Regions from separate parts of the Homo sapiens genome. Here region 2 is linked to region 1. The links come from fine-mapping of genetic effects on gene expression. Tissue or cell type: whole blood. Region 1 holds a variant in brackets; the other region holds the start of a gene. All regions are shown on one strand. Distances are between the middles of the regions.

What was found. PIP is the estimated chance that this variant, and not a neighbour inherited with it, causes the effect.
Region 2: EIF2AK4 starts here. The variant in region 1 is fine-mapped to the expression of EIF2AK4 in whole blood (INTERVAL, PIP above 0.99).

Annotation. Positions count from the first base shown.
Region 1 is chr15:39,545,917-39,553,709 of GRCh38, forward strand. No RefSeq gene overlaps it. Among named protein-coding and RNA genes, the nearest start is that of THBS1, 31 kb to the right of the region's middle. The variant A/G (reference allele first, on the strand shown) is at 4,444.
Region 2 is chr15:39,930,131-39,937,923 of GRCh38, forward strand. It overlaps EIF2AK4 (eukaryotic translation initiation factor 2 alpha kinase 4), which reads left to right and starts at 3,985. Exons shown (of 39, transcript NM_001013703.4): 1 at 3,985-4,209. The coding sequence starts at 4,066. RefSeq lists an enhancer at 3,698-3,837 and a silencer at 3,858-4,267.

The DNA of each region.
Region 1 (7,793 bases):
AAATTGGAAAGGAAGAAATAAAATTGTCTCTTTGTAGATGATGCGATCTTACACATTTAGCCAGAAAAACATTAGAACTAATAAGCAAATTCAGTAGAGTTGCAGAAAACAAAATCAGCACACAAAAATCAGTGTGTTTCTATATAATAACAACAAAGTATCAGAAAAAGAAATTTTAAAATATGTTATTTACAATAGAATCAAAAATAAAGTATCTAGGAATAAATTTAATCAAGGAGAGATAAAAGATCTGTACACTGTACATAAACATAAAAAGATCTGTACACTGTACATAAGGAATTGATGAAACAAACTGAAGAAGACATAAATAGGAAGGTAACCCGTGTTCATGGATTTTTAAAAATTAATAGTATTAAAATGTCTATACTACCCAAAATAATCTATTGATTCAATGCCATTCCTATCCAAATTCTTCAAGCATCCTTCAAAGAAATAGGAAAAACAGTCCTAAAATTTGTATGGAACCACAGATGACCCCAAAAAAGCCAAAGCACTCTTGAGAAAGAACAAAGCTGGAGGTATTACATGTCCTGATTTCTAATCATATTACAAAGCTAAAGTAATCAAAACAGTTAAAACAGACACATAGATCAATGAAACAGAATAGAGAGCCCAGAAATAAACCTACACATATAGGGTAAACTAATATTTGACAAGGGTACCAGGAATGCATATTGGGGAAAGAATAATCATTTTCATACACAGTGTTGAAAAACTGGATATCCACATGCAAAAGAATGAAACTGGACCTCTGTCTCATAGCATAAAAAAAAAAACTCAAAATCAAAACACAAATATAAGATCTGAAACCATAAAACTCCTACAAGAAAACGTAGAAAAAACTTCCTTGACATTGGCTTCATAATTACTTTTTTGATATGACACCAAAACACAGGAAACAAAAGCAAAAATAAATAAATAGGACTACATCAAGCTAAAAAGCTTATGCATGACAAAAGAATCAGCAAAATGAAAAGGCACCTATAGAATGGGAGAAAATATTGGCAAACCATGTATCTGTTAAGGGGTTCATTTCCAAAATATATAAGGAACTCATACAACTCAGTAGCAAATAATAATAATAATTTAACTAAAATTAAATTAAATTTCAATTTATTAAATTAATACTCAAATTAATTTTAATGTATTAAATTAACAGCATAATTAAAATGGTAAAAAGACCTGAATAGACACTTTTCTAAATTCATAAAAATGTCCAACAGGTTCATGGACAGGTGTTCAACATCGCTAACCATCAGGCAAATGCAAATCAAAACTAAAATAAGACATCACCATATACCTGTTCGTATGGCTATTACCAATAAGACAAGAGGTAAGTGTTGGTGAGGATATAGAGAAAAGAGAAAACTTGTGTACCCTTGGTAGAATGTAAATTGGCACAGCCGTTATGGAAAACAGTATGGTGTTGCCTCAAAAAATTAAAAAAAGAACTACCATATGACCCACCAATCCCACTTCTGTGTCTATATATCCAAAGGAAATAATATCAATCTCTCAAAGAGATATCTTCACTCTTGTGTTCACTGCAGCATTATTCATAATAGCCAAGACATGGGAACAACTTAACTGCCTGTCAACAAATGAATAAAGAAAATGTGGTATACATGTAGTTAAATATTATTCAGCCATAAAATTGGAGAACATCTTGCTATTTGCGACAACATGGATGAACCGGGAGGGCATTATGCTAACTGAAATAAGCCAGAAAAATGAGGACAAATACTGTATTATCTCACATATGGAATCTAAAAAAGTCACACTCACCAAAACAGAAAGTTGAATCATGGTTTCCAGGGGCTGGAGGTTAGGGGAAATAAGAGTATGTTGGTCAAAGGATACAAACTTTCTAATATAAGATGAATAAGCTCTGAGGATCTAATGTACAGCATGGTGGCTATATTTAATGATACTGTATTGTGTATTTGTAATTTGCTGAGAATAGATCCTGTGTTCTCACCACAAAAACAAAAATGGTAACTATCTGAGGTTAGGGATATGTTAACCAACATAATTGTGATAATCATTCCTTCACAATATATACTTATATCAAATAATCATGTTGTATATTTTAAGTGTATACAATTTTATTTGTCAATTATACATCAACACAAGTGGGAGGGAAAAAACGAGAAAATTGCATGAGCTAATGACCCAAGTCCTCATGTCATTCACCACTGTTGCACCAGCTATGGCTATATGGGCACCACTTATGTTCAGCTGATAGAGGAAGGGAAAAGCCAAGCTTTGTTCAAAACAGTTGGGCCAGTTTGATGTAGGAATACAAACCAGAAAAGGTCTTTAGTATTCTCAGTCCCACTCATGAATAACCCTAAAAGACAGCAGTGAGGGGACATCCTCCCAATGGACTTCAAGTGATGCACCTGGCCACTCACTTTGTGTGGAAAGTGGCTCAAGGTCAAATATATCTAAACTCATGGGCAATTGTAAATGGGTTGGCTGGTTGCTTAGTGGCCTGGAAGGAGAAAGAGTGAAAGATAAGGAATAAGGAGGTCTGGGGAAGAGGAATACGGAAGTGGACATGAAGTGCAAAGAGCTTCATGAAGATCTTTGTATACCATGTTAACGCCTACCATGGAAGAGGCAATTTCTAGTCAAATGGACAGACTGATTTGGCCAGGTGATGTCAGACAGCCCTTTCTCATTAATCACCCCAGTGCTGGCAAGCAGGCATATGAACAGAGTAATCATGGTGGCAGGCACGGAGGCTGTGCAAGGCAGCTTACAAAATAGGTGATCTAGTTTCTGCTGCTGCTGAATATCTATCAGGAACAGAGATTACTGCCGAGCCCCTGACAAAGAACAATTCTTCAGAGAGTCCAATCGGCCATGTGGTGGCACAGCAATTACATTAAACCTCTTTCTCCATGGAAGGGCCAGCAATTCATCTTGAAGGAAATCAACACATACTTAGGATACAGGTTTGCCATTCCTGCCCATAGATCCTCAGCCGGCACCATTATCTAAGGACTTACTTCATGTACGATTCACTAACACAGGAGCCCACAGAACATCCTGTTGTACCCAGAAACTCACTTTAGAAGAAAAGAGGTACAACGATGAGCACAGGACCAGCTGCTGACTTTATAAGGTAAAGGAACACCCTTTTGAAAGTATTGCTGAAGTACCACATTCAATATAATACTTAAGGCTGGAGTCCTTAAGCATCCCGCATCCTCCAGGATGCAGTGTCCACCCTTAATAATAAGTGACTATTATACAGTACTGTGTCTCCTCTATATAGATTACATGGTTCAGGGTGGAAATAGGGCTAATCCCTCCTACCATCTCACTCAATAACCTACCCAGGGAATTCATCCCTTCCATCTCCACGACTCTGAGCTCTGCAGCTCTAGAGAGTCTGGTTCCAAGAACAGAAACACTTATACCAGGAACACTACACGAATCCCATTAAACTTTAAGCTACAGCTGTTGGCACTTTATGTTTCTTGTGCCAAGAGGTCAACAGGCCAAAAAAGGCATCACCATTTTGGCAGTGGTAATTGATCAGGAGAAGGTTGAGCTATTGTTACACATGGTGACAGAAAAGACTATTTGGCTCCCAGAAGGACTTCTTGGGCATCTCTTGGTAATACCCTAGCCAATCGTAATGGTAAATGGATAAAAGTAGTAGTCATGGCTTGAGAAGGGCATGATGACTACAGGCTCAGATCCTTCATGGATGAAGGTTTGGGTCACCCAACCAGGTAAGCCACCTGGAGCAGAGCTTTCAGCCAAGGGGAAGAGAACTCTACACTGGGTTGTAAAGAAGGGATTTGATGAGTGTCAGTTGTGTCCCTGAGAACAGCTGCATTGTTGAGAGCTACAGTTTGTCCCATTAATCTTCCTCTTGTACATTTCCCTAGGAAAAGAAGCAAACCAGAGTTCTAGAGGAGCTCTTCCCAGATAGGGTGATTTTTTTAAATAAGAAATATGTGGTCCAAGAGTTGAAAGGGGTAACTGAAACAATCACTTTGATGCACCACAAGCTTCCCCGCTTCAGTTCTGAGGGCTTATTCCCCCAGTGGCCAGATATGTTATCTGCTGACAGCTAGCTGTTGAGTCTTTCTTTTGGAATTGCTCTTGGCCAAAGGGAGATGCCTCACCCAAGGTCATGACCTCTCCCTGGAGACAACCTGCATCCAATGAGAAGTCAATGCAAGAGCACAAAAGCTCGGCCCCCTTGCCTCAGCTTGGGACAACTCACAGGAGAGCTCCAAACTCCAGCGCTCCTCAGGATCAGCTGAGGCCATTGTTGCAATACATCATAGTTCATCTTCTTCCTTTGCCCAGTCCTTTTCCTCACCCTCTCAAGGGCGTTGAGGGCACTCCTTTAAAAAATTCCCACACAGAGACTCTCTGTCTCTGAGTCTATTTCATTGG[A/G]ACATGATCCAAAACATAATATATATCAAAATCCTTGAAAACATTCATCCATTTTAACCCAGTACTCTCACATCTAAGATAGTCTAAGGTAATGAGAGATTAAATCATAGTTTTGAGTTTGCTGTTGTAACATTATAATTTTTTAAAAACTATAAAGAATCTAAATGTTCAAAAAGAAAGAAATAGCTAACATAATGGTATAGAATTCTTTACAGCCATTACAGTTCATATTTTTGAGAAATATAGTGACATAGGAAAATGTTCACAATATAATTTTAAGTGAAAACAGCAGGATATAGAACTATAAAATTATAAATGGTTTGCAAACATATTACTTAAAGAACTATCACCTTTAAGAGAAATGCAATGACCCCAGTGGTAAATATATTTAAAAAAATCTAAGGAGATAGTCAAATTTTGTTTAATTGAGTAAAATTTGATCTCATAGCCAGACCTATTTTTAGGTAAAATAAAGATAGTAAATTCTCTAGCACTGGATATTTGAAGAACAGCACAAATGACACTTGGCTTGCTGTAGAGTAGAATTAAGCATGAATTTAAAATGTTTAAGGTACCATTTTGCCCTCCGGAATTCCATTCTGCAGTGAGTGTCTTAGAGATGTGTGGTTTTGGTCGGCTTGCCTCTGCTTTCCCTTGGCTGGCCTGGCTTTGGTTGATTTGTCTTAGTTAACAACTTAACTCTTGAAGACATCTGACTTCTTTGGCTAACTTTGACAATTAGGCAAGAAGAAATTTGTTTGATCATCTCCACCTCAAAACCCTACTACCTTTAGACCTTTATCACAAGCATAGAGGAAAAGAATTCAAAGAAAAGAAACTCATGTGAGATGTTACTACCAAGTATCTCTAGGCAATAGGAAGGAGTAACCCAGACCCACCATTAAGGGAAGGGGAGTGCTTTTAGAAAATAAGATTGTATATTGAGACAAACTAATTGTGATGTTGTTATGTCACATGTTTAAATAATCCCAGGTGCACATTCTCTCACTTTCATCAGAACACAACCACACCAAAGCAGGTCAAAGAATCTGACTCCTTTCCACCACCAAGCCTCTTAACATTTTCTAGACCTGAATACAAACCAAACACTCTCATTTTCCCAATTTCTTACTCCCACTCAAGATATTTCAAACACGTGAAATTGATTATTTGAAGGTTTAAGGGAGTGAAATTTAAGATTAAAGACATTCCTTCCCCAACCACTGCTCCGCACTCACATGGCAACTTGGCCTATGCTATAGACAGGGGAGATGACATTTAAGCTCCATGCAGAGATGAGCCCTGTCTTTGAGTTCTTTGTGGCCTTTCCTTCAGTGAAGAGTGTCAGTCCCTGTCTGTCCCTGCCCTGCCCCTTCTAACCACAGATGTCCTAGCCTGGCCATGGATGTGGAGTTCCTCAGAGCAAATAGAGTCCATGATTTTGTGTTCTCAGGGGTCATCAAGGTGTGCTGATAGCTTTATCTTCCCTTTTCACTTCATTTTTCTCTAATATGTGATTAAAATGCAGGGCTATCCCAGAAGGAGTTGACTAGAGAACTAAAAAACAAACAAACAAAACAAAGGGACCCCAAAATGACTTCATGGTTAAAAGAAAAACATAACAGTGAAAAAATAAAGGCATTATAATGAACTCTTCTCCATACTCTCTAGAGCCCTGGGGAAATCTCTTTGATGTAGAATCACTGAATGAAGAAAAGCCCATGTGAAACCAGAACACTTGGGTTTATCCAACAGATATTTTTAAAGCACTTGCTATGTATCAGGCACTGTGCTAGATACTGAAGATACATAGACCTGGACACTGCCCTCATGGAAATTATACTCTAGCAACTCAGATTTATCAGTCCCACAACACTGGGTAGACCGCACAACAATATCAGGCACAGTAGTGCCGTGAGCTTATCCATCCCGTACATGTTCCCAGGAGTGCTAAGAAAGGGAAATAGCAGCCAGAAACATCCTATGAAAAGATTACCTGGAACGACTCAAGAAAATCTGCCCAGGTGCATCTGTTTACCTCTCCTCCTCTGCCAAGCAGGAGAACAATATTGAATTGGAGAACACATATGTTAATAACTCCAAAGAGAGGCTAGTATCTCAGCTTGAGCACCAGCTCCCTGGATGCTACTATAGTTCTGGGCAAAACTGCAAAGCAGCCAAAGTTGGTCTTGCAACCATCCCAACTTTAGCCCATTATCAATCTCCCAGACATCACATGCACATAGCCTACCCTAAATCTGCCCCAAATCCTTCAATCAGCCTAGACATGCCTCTAGACTAGTGTCTGGTTTAAAATGTAAATGAGGTTTAACCTTACCAGGGATGCCTCAACATCCCCTGGCAGACCTTCCACCCAGACAGGAAGAGGTGGCATAATGGAGCAAGCATGGGTTTGGGGCCAGAAAGACCTGGTTTTCTACCCCAGTTTCACAACTTACTATTTTGTGACCACAAGCAAGTTACTTAACCTCGATTAAGCCTCAATGTTCTTGGCCACAAAATGCAGATAATAATGTCTGCCCAAATATATTTCGGGAAGATTAAATACAAACAAGTTCTTCATTTCTTATCCTATCCTTCCTCATCTCATAAGGGGAACCAATAAAGCTCAGCAAAAACACAAAAAAGACATTGATTTTATTTATTTATAGGCATTGGCAGAAACCCCATCATGAACAGGGAAACCCTTTGGAATTCTGCTGCAATTGATTGCCTTGGCTGGGAGATGTGAGGTTCCTGGAGCAATGTGAAGAAATCCAGGGGATCGCCTGGGCAGGACCCAGGCCTCTAGGCAAAATGTGTGGAACAAGCCATCGGTTTTATAATCCTCCTAAGAAAGATCATGAAAAGCAAAGTGCATTCTTAATTATTTCAAAGAGCTCTGGATTCTATATAATCTGTCCTGGAAATAATGAAGAGAAGAAAGACAAAACTTGGCTTTATTTACAGAGGTGACGTTACAGGGATTCACCATCTATTATTACCTGGCAATACCTTAGGGCTGGCCTCCACCACTGCTTTTTATGAAGAGTAAAGTACACGTGAAGTCTGTTGTTCAAGGCCCTGACCCACATCCAACCTGGACTCCCACCACTCTCTCTCAGGCATTCTGGGCTAAGCTGTAACTCAGCCGTGTCTTCCCTACACTAGCGACAGTCTTCTGCTTCATCCTGCCCTTCTCTCCACCTACCAAGCCCTCCTTTCATGTCTTCCCATCAACCTTCTCCATATAGCCAAGCCCCTGCTCAAATGGACCCTCTCCATCAGGGAGAGGTAACAGAAGCTAGAACCCAGGCTCAGGGTCCATAGACCAGGCCCCAGGGCCTACT
Region 2 (7,793 bases), 380 kb after region 1:
ATTTAACAGTTTATTAAGGTATAGTAAACATATAACACATTGCATATATTTAAATTGTACAGTTTGATAAGTTTTGATATATGCATATACTTGTGACATGATCACCACAATCAAAATAATGAATGTATACAGACATCACTCCCAAGAGTTTCTTCTTGTTCCACTTTAATCCCTCCACCTGGCTCTTCTATGTCCTCCCTATCCCCAAGCAACCACTTATCTTCTTTCTGTTACCAAATTTGTATTTTTCAGAATTTTATGTAAATGGAATTATGTAGTGTGTACTCTATGTCGGCCTTCTTTCATTCGGCATAATTATTTTGAGTTTGTCTATGTTGTTGCTGTATCTATAATGTATTTCTTTTTATTGCTGAATAGTATTTCATTGTATTGATATACCTCAATTTGTTTATACTTCAATATGTCCATCTTGTGTTGGTGGGCATTTGGTTTGTTTCCAGTTTGGGGATATTACAAATTAAGGTGCTACAAATATTTACATACAAGTCATTGTATGGACATACGCTTTTGTTTCTCTTGGGTAAATGCCTGGGATGGAATTGCTGTTTCATATAGTAGGTATATGCTTAAGTTTTTAACTAAAATGGATGATAGGCCAAAAGGTAAAATCTAACACTATCTAGATGAAGACATAGAAGAAAACCTTTTTGGCCTTGGGATAGGCAAATATTTCTTAGATATGACTGCAAAACATAATTCATGTAAGAAAAAAATGACAAATTAAATGTCCTCTAAAGTAAGAAACATGCTCTTTGAAATACAGTTAAGAGAATGAAAAAGCAAGCCACAGACTGGGTGAATATTTTTGCCTGTCACATATCTGATAAAAGACATGTCCGGCCTGGTGCAGTGGCCTACACCTGTAATTCCAGCACTTTGGGAGGCTGAGGCGAGCAGATCACGAGGTCAGGAGTTCAAGACCAGCCTGGCCAACATGGTGAAACCCCGTCACTACTAAAACTACAAAAATTAGCTGGGCGTGGTGGCATATGCCTGTAATCCCAGCTACTCGGGAGGCTGAGGCAGGAGAACTGCTTGAACCCGGGAGGCAGAGGTTGCAGTGAGCTGCGATCGCACCACTGCACTCCAGCCTCGGTGACAGAGTGAGATTCCATCTCAAAAAAAAAAAAAAAAATACATGTCCAGAATATATAAATATTTCTCAAAAGTTAATAAGAAAACAAAAACAAAATTTTTAAAATGCACCAAAGATGTGAATAAAAACAGAAGACAGACGATATATGAATGGAAAATAATCACATGAAAAGATGCCCAACATCATTAATCATTAGGATAATGCAAGTTAAGACACACTGAGATACTGCTAAGCACCAATTACTATGTTTAAGATTAAAAACATTACAATACCAATTACTGGCAAAGAGGTAGAACAACTGGAACTCCCATAAACTGATGGGAATATAAAGTGGTACAACCACTTTGGAAAACACTTTGACAGTTTCTTATTTTTTTTGCTTTGAACTTTGACTTTAAAATAATTTCCAACTTACATAAAATTTTCAAGTCACTCAAAGAGCTCTCATATATCCTTCACCTAAATTCTCCAATGTTCAACATTCTACATTTGATTTAGCATCATCTCTCTTCTTTTTCCTGAATCATTTGGGAGCTAACTGCATATTTAATACGTCACTGCCCCCTTAATGCTGCATTTGGTATAATACTGCCATGTAATCCACAGATTCCTTTCAAATTTTGCTGTTTGTTTTAATTATATCTTTTATAGGTCCAGCGTCCAGTATAGATTCTAATTTTACACAATGGAAATATTTGAACATAGATTAGGTATTAAACGATGCTAAGAAATTGTTAATTTTTTTTTAAGAGACAAGGTCTTACTCTGTTGCCCAGATTGGAGTGCAGTGGTGCAATCACAGCTCACTGCAGCCTTGGACTCCTGGGCTCAAGCAATCCTCCCACTCAGCCTCCTGAGGGTGGGACTACATGTCACCTCGTCCAGCTAATTTTTTATTTTATTTTTTGTAGAGATGGGGCCTCGCTATGTTGCCCAGGCTGGTCTCAAACTCCTGGCCTCAAGTGATCCTCCACCTTGTGCTGGGATTACAGGTGTGAGCCACTGTCCCTGGCCAAAGGGTTACATTTTTAGGGTATAAGATTAGTAATATGTTATGTTGGTTCCTTTTCTAGTTAGAGATATATCCTTAGGTATTTATTTTTTAAAATGATATGATTGAGACTTAAAAAAAACACTCCTGAGGGATGGAGAGAAGAGATGAAATAAAATTGACAAAATATCTATGGTTGTTGAAGCTGGATGATGAGTACAGAGGAGTTTACTTCTAAGTATGTTTGACATTTTCATAAATATAGGTTTAAAAGAATTTTTTTAAAGACCAATAGAGAAATGGAGTAATTTTAAGGATTAGAGTGCAATGGCCATATTTGCAATTTAGAAACATTACTCTGGCTGCAATAGGAAGAATGGCTTAATGTGGGGCAAGAATGAAGACAGTGACTAATTAAGAGAGTTATTGAAGTAACCCAGGGAATTGGTGACAGTAGCCTGAACTAAGTTAGTGGCAATGGGTTAGAGTGTAGTGGATGGACAGAAGTGGTGACTATTTGGATGTGAGTTGAGAGAAAGGGAATTCAGAATCACACTCAGTTGAATGGTGCCATTTACCTAGTCAGAGATCACTGGAGAAGGAACGGGTCTCCAGCAGAGGGAAGATGATGATTTAAATTGGCCTTGGGTCAAGCTAGTGCATTTGTGTTATCTGGCCAGAAATGAGTGGATAGATGGCAGCAAGGAATTTACACAATCATTATTTAGTGAACAGTGGAGGAGTAAGCAAGGTAGACAGAAGAAACGTCACTTAAACCTAACTTGGGTTAGTACAATAGGATTATTCGAAATGGACATGCAGCATTAGTAAGTTACTGAAGATGAAGTGCAATAACAATGTCTGGGTAGACAGGTTATTATTTTATAAACTTGAAAAACGACGACTTGAGGCAGGATATAACACAAAGACTCCCTAAATTCACACTGAGTGAACTGGGAAGGGAACATGATTCTCTTCATGGGAAGGTAGCTCATAAAGATGCCTGAGTGGAAAGACAGTTTTCAATTGAATTTGCAAGGTGGTAGTGGAGATCCCCAAAGCTGGGGAATGTAGAGACAGAGAACATAATGAGGGTGTTGAATCTGTGGCTCAGAGAATAAGTTTGGGGGTACTAAAGTGGGAGGAAGGAGGGTGGGGGGGGTCACAATTTTTACTCCCGGTAGTCTTGTTCTGGGAAGGTACAAGGTGAAATTAGAAGTGACCTCAGAACCCATCGACGTCTGCCCTTTAAGAGTTTCCCGGCCGGGCGCGGTGGCTCATGCCTGTAATCCCAGCACTTTGGAAGGCCGAGGCGGGCGGATCACAAGGTCAGGAGATCGAGAACATCTTGGCCAACATGGTGAAACACCATCTCTACTAAAAATAGAAAAATTAGCCGGGCGTGGTGGTGCGCGCCTGTAGTCCCAGCTACTCTGGAGGCTGACGCAGGAGAATCGCGTGAACCCGGCAGGCGGAAGTTGCAGTGAGCCGAGATCGCGCCACTGCACTCCAGCCTGGGGAACAAGAGCCGAAACTCTGCCAAAAAAAAGAAAAAAGAGTTTCCCGCACTAGCCATGCCAGGGTGGAGAAGTTCCAGCAAGCACTTCTGTTAAAGATACTTGTTTCGTGAAAACTATACAATGTGGCGTTTTCATTCCTATCTGTGATTCATTTCTTAAGTTCGTGGAGTTCCTTTGCTCCCCTTCCCCCAGCAGGATGTGGGCAAAGCTGTCCCCCTGCCTTCTTCCTTCGCCTGGGCTTCTGGAGCCTCCGGAGCTAGCTCCCGGCGCGGAGCTCCGCCTACGGCCCGTCCCCGGCGCGGAACCCCGCCCACGAGCCCGTTTCCAGCGTGGAACACCGCCCATAGCCCGTCCCCAGCGCGGAGCCCCGCCCCGCAGGCTGCCGGGGGCCCACCGCCGCCCAGGCAAGGCCGCCCTGCCTTGGGCGCAGCGCTGCCATGGCTGGGGGCCGTGGGGCCCCCGGGCGCGGCCGGGACGAGCCTCCGGAGAGCTACCCGCAACGACAGGACCACGAGCTACAGGCCCTGGAGGCCATTTACGGCGCGGACTTCCAAGACCTGCGGCCGGACGCTTGCGGACCGGTAGGAACGTGGCTTGTCAGGCCCGGGCTGGCGTGCCCTGGCCTCCCCGGGCCCTGGGCCAAAGCCCGGACACTTCCAGATTGGGCCGCCGCTTTAGGATCCTGCAGTCTTTTCATCCCTTAGGTTCCACCCATGCTCACTTTAGTCCTTGCACCTGCAGCTGGTCTGCAGAATCCCACCTAGGCCGAATTCTTCTACAGTCCTTTCCCCATGATTTCCCCAGAGGAATCCCCCTGGATTCCTCCCTCTTACCTGGCACTGCTTCTTATTCCTGCCTACATCCCATAACATAACTGCCTCCTTCCAACCTTGTCCTTTTTCCCCTCTGAAAGCCCTTGCGGATGATACCACAGCAATTCATACGCGCCCCTTGCTACTTTGTTCTGAGAACGCTTTTTGGGCTCTCGCACAGGCCTTACGTCCTCAATCAGAATTCTCAAGTCTCATCCATGCATTCAAATCTGCACGCCACATAATTCCCTCTGTACTCCCCAGGCATCCTCACTGTGTTTTCCGGTATGGAGGAACTTTCCATACCTCTGCACCTTCCTCTAAGACATTTAGCTCAGAATAAAGCACACATTCATCTTAGCTGTAGTAGAGAGAGGGTTCTAGACTGAGTCTAGAGAAGGAGTGTCCAATCTTTTGGCTTCCCTGGGCCACACACAAAATACACTAACACTAAGGATAGCTGATGACCTAAAAGAAAAAAAAAATTCGCAAAAAAACCTCAATGTTTTAAGAAAGTTTACGAATGCGTGTTGGGCCACATTCAAAGCGGCCCATGGGCCTCGGGTTAGACCAGCTTGCTCTAGCTCTAGACCTTTTAAAATGGCATTTTGTTTAAAATAATATTTTGCCTTTTTGTCTGGAAATTAAGGCACGTTATAAAGTATTTATACTGACAGTTTTTTCCCCATCCTTGAAGAGTTGATCTACCAAACTATTTCTGAATATTATCATATTATCATTTAAAACATAGTTCTAACTTCATCTGCTTTTTTTTTTTTTCTTTTTGAGACAGGGTCTTGCTCTGTCTCCCAAGCTGGAGTGCAGAGGCATGACCACGGCTCACTGCAGCTTATTCTCAAGCAATCCTTCTGCCTCAGCCTGTCAAGTACCTGGGACTACAGGCACATGCCACTACACCTGGTTAATTTTTTTAATTTTTTGTAGAGACAGAGTCTTGCTCTGTTGCCCGGGCTGGTATCAAGTTCCTGAGCTCATGCAATCCTCTCACCTTGGCCTCTGAAAGTGCTGGGATTACAGGTGTGGGCCACCGCGCCTGGCCTCTTCATCTGCTTTTAACTTTGGCATTTCACAACATCTGCTCTATCTACACATCCAGGATTTCCTCAAGAAATACCATCTTCTGGAGCTATCAGGACAAAATATTCTCTCTCAAACTCAGGGTGCTTCTTCCTTCATTAAATATTTGTTTTAGGCATTAGGAATACAGCTGTGGGCAAAACAGACAAAAATCCTTGCCCTCAGGGAGCTTACTTTTCTAATGCTTAATAATATGAAGTTATTTTTAACCTGAAATGGTAAAAATATAAATTATTCCCCTTAACATGACAGAGAAGTTGGTGACTGGGGAACTTCTATCTTCCCAAACCTTGAGAATCAGGAAGTAGGCCCAAGAAGCAGCCAAAATAGGTGTCTCAAAGTGTACATGGGACTCAACACAAAGCTCCTAAGGCTTCATTCTGAACTAGTTTGTTTACTTTATACAAGCTTAGTTGTCTGCTCCTAGGGCTGCAGAAAAATGGAAGAGAAAAAGCAACTTCTTTTAGGTAGGGATATTGATAACCTCAAGAATTTATAGCTGGTGGCTTTCATAACAAGATGGAATACTAGACAAACCAAAGCAAAAACTATAGAAGGCAGGCAGAAGAATTTAAATAGCTGTCTGTGGCCTATTGTACACCGGGCAAATGGCCTCAACACATTCATAGGACTGGCAGGCAAATAATTGATGGTCTCAAGGATGAATCAGAGTTTAGTCATTCAACAAGCACTTATTATCACCTGCTATTTGCCAGGGAAAAGTGATGCAGGTCCAAAATCCTTTATCCAAAACTCTTTATTGAGAGGGAGTTTCTCTCTGTCGCCCGGGCTGGAGTGCGGTGGAGCAATCTCGGCTCACTGCAACCTCCACCTCCCAGGTTCAAGCGATTCTTGTGCCTCAGCCTCCTGAGCAGCTGGGATTACAGGTACCCGCCTCCACACCTGGCTAATTTTTGTATTTTTAGTAGAGATGGAGTTTCATTATGTTGGCCAGGCTGGTCTCGAATTCCTGACCTCAAGTCCTCCCGCCTCGCCTCCCAAAGTCCTGGGATTACAGGTGTGAGCCACCGTGCCCAGCCTTTTATCCAAAACTCTTGAGACTTGATGGGTTTCAGAATTCAGAAGTGCTTCTGTTCACGTTTATGTGTGCACATTCCACACATTACCTAATACCTTCCTCAGTGTCTGGGGCAGCATCGAAAATCAAACACAATGAAACATAGAAATACTCAAATTTCACACTGAACAAATAAACACTATAACTAACCTCATGTCAGTTCAGGCTAAATTTGCTGCCAATAAATTCAGGTTAGATTTTTTTTTCAACTTCTTTTAGTGGGGATGTGTTGTAATATAAATTTCAGTTTAGTAGCATATGTATATCATTTATAAATAACATTTTGAGGTGCATGCTAAAAACTTTTGCATTTGTAAAAAGTTTAGACACTGCTAGTTTAAAGTATCTATAATTTATAGATAGTTACAAATTACTAACTTATTTTGGCTAGCTTTCCACAGCAGCAAAAGGTCTGCTCATTTATAATTTGATAGCTTTTGGAAACATCCCTCCAAAAAACTTGCTTCAATCCCTGGATCCCCCAGTAGTGTATGGTGGTGTTTGTTTTCCTTTATCTTCAACAATACTATATATGTTAGACTTTTTCATCTTTGCCACATAAATGAAACATATCTCATTTTAATTTTTATTTATTTATAAATTATCTAGAACACCTTTGTTTACAAACCATTGATTTTTCTTTTTCTGTGAACTGCTCATACTCTGGTTTATTTTTCTACTCTGTGGTCCATTTTCTTGTTTATTTGTAAGAGCTAAATATCTTAAGAAAACTAGCATTTTGGGTCATATAATGCATATATTTTTCTCCTAATTATATGCATTTATTTACGTAATTTATGTGATTTAAAAAATGTTGATAGAGTCAAAATGACCTTTTTTTTCTTTTATGGTCCCTGTGGGTTTTTTTTCCCCCTCTGTTCCAATGTTACTAAAAACCAAATTCGTCAAAGTTTACTTTTAACTTGTTCATGACTTCGTTTTTAAATTTTCATCAAATAAAGATATAAGTAGGTTTTTTTTTTTAAGTTCTTCGTTCCATCAAAGTACGGGCCTAGGCCACCTCCCCGTGTGCATCCCTCCTCCTCCAGCTAGGCAGCTAGACAAATATAGGCAATTGAATTTTTCAGTGTCTTCCACTCATTTGAAATGCCATTCCTACAAGCCCAGTGCCTGGTAAAACAAACAAAAAACTTTCAAAAATTGTTACTGAATGAAA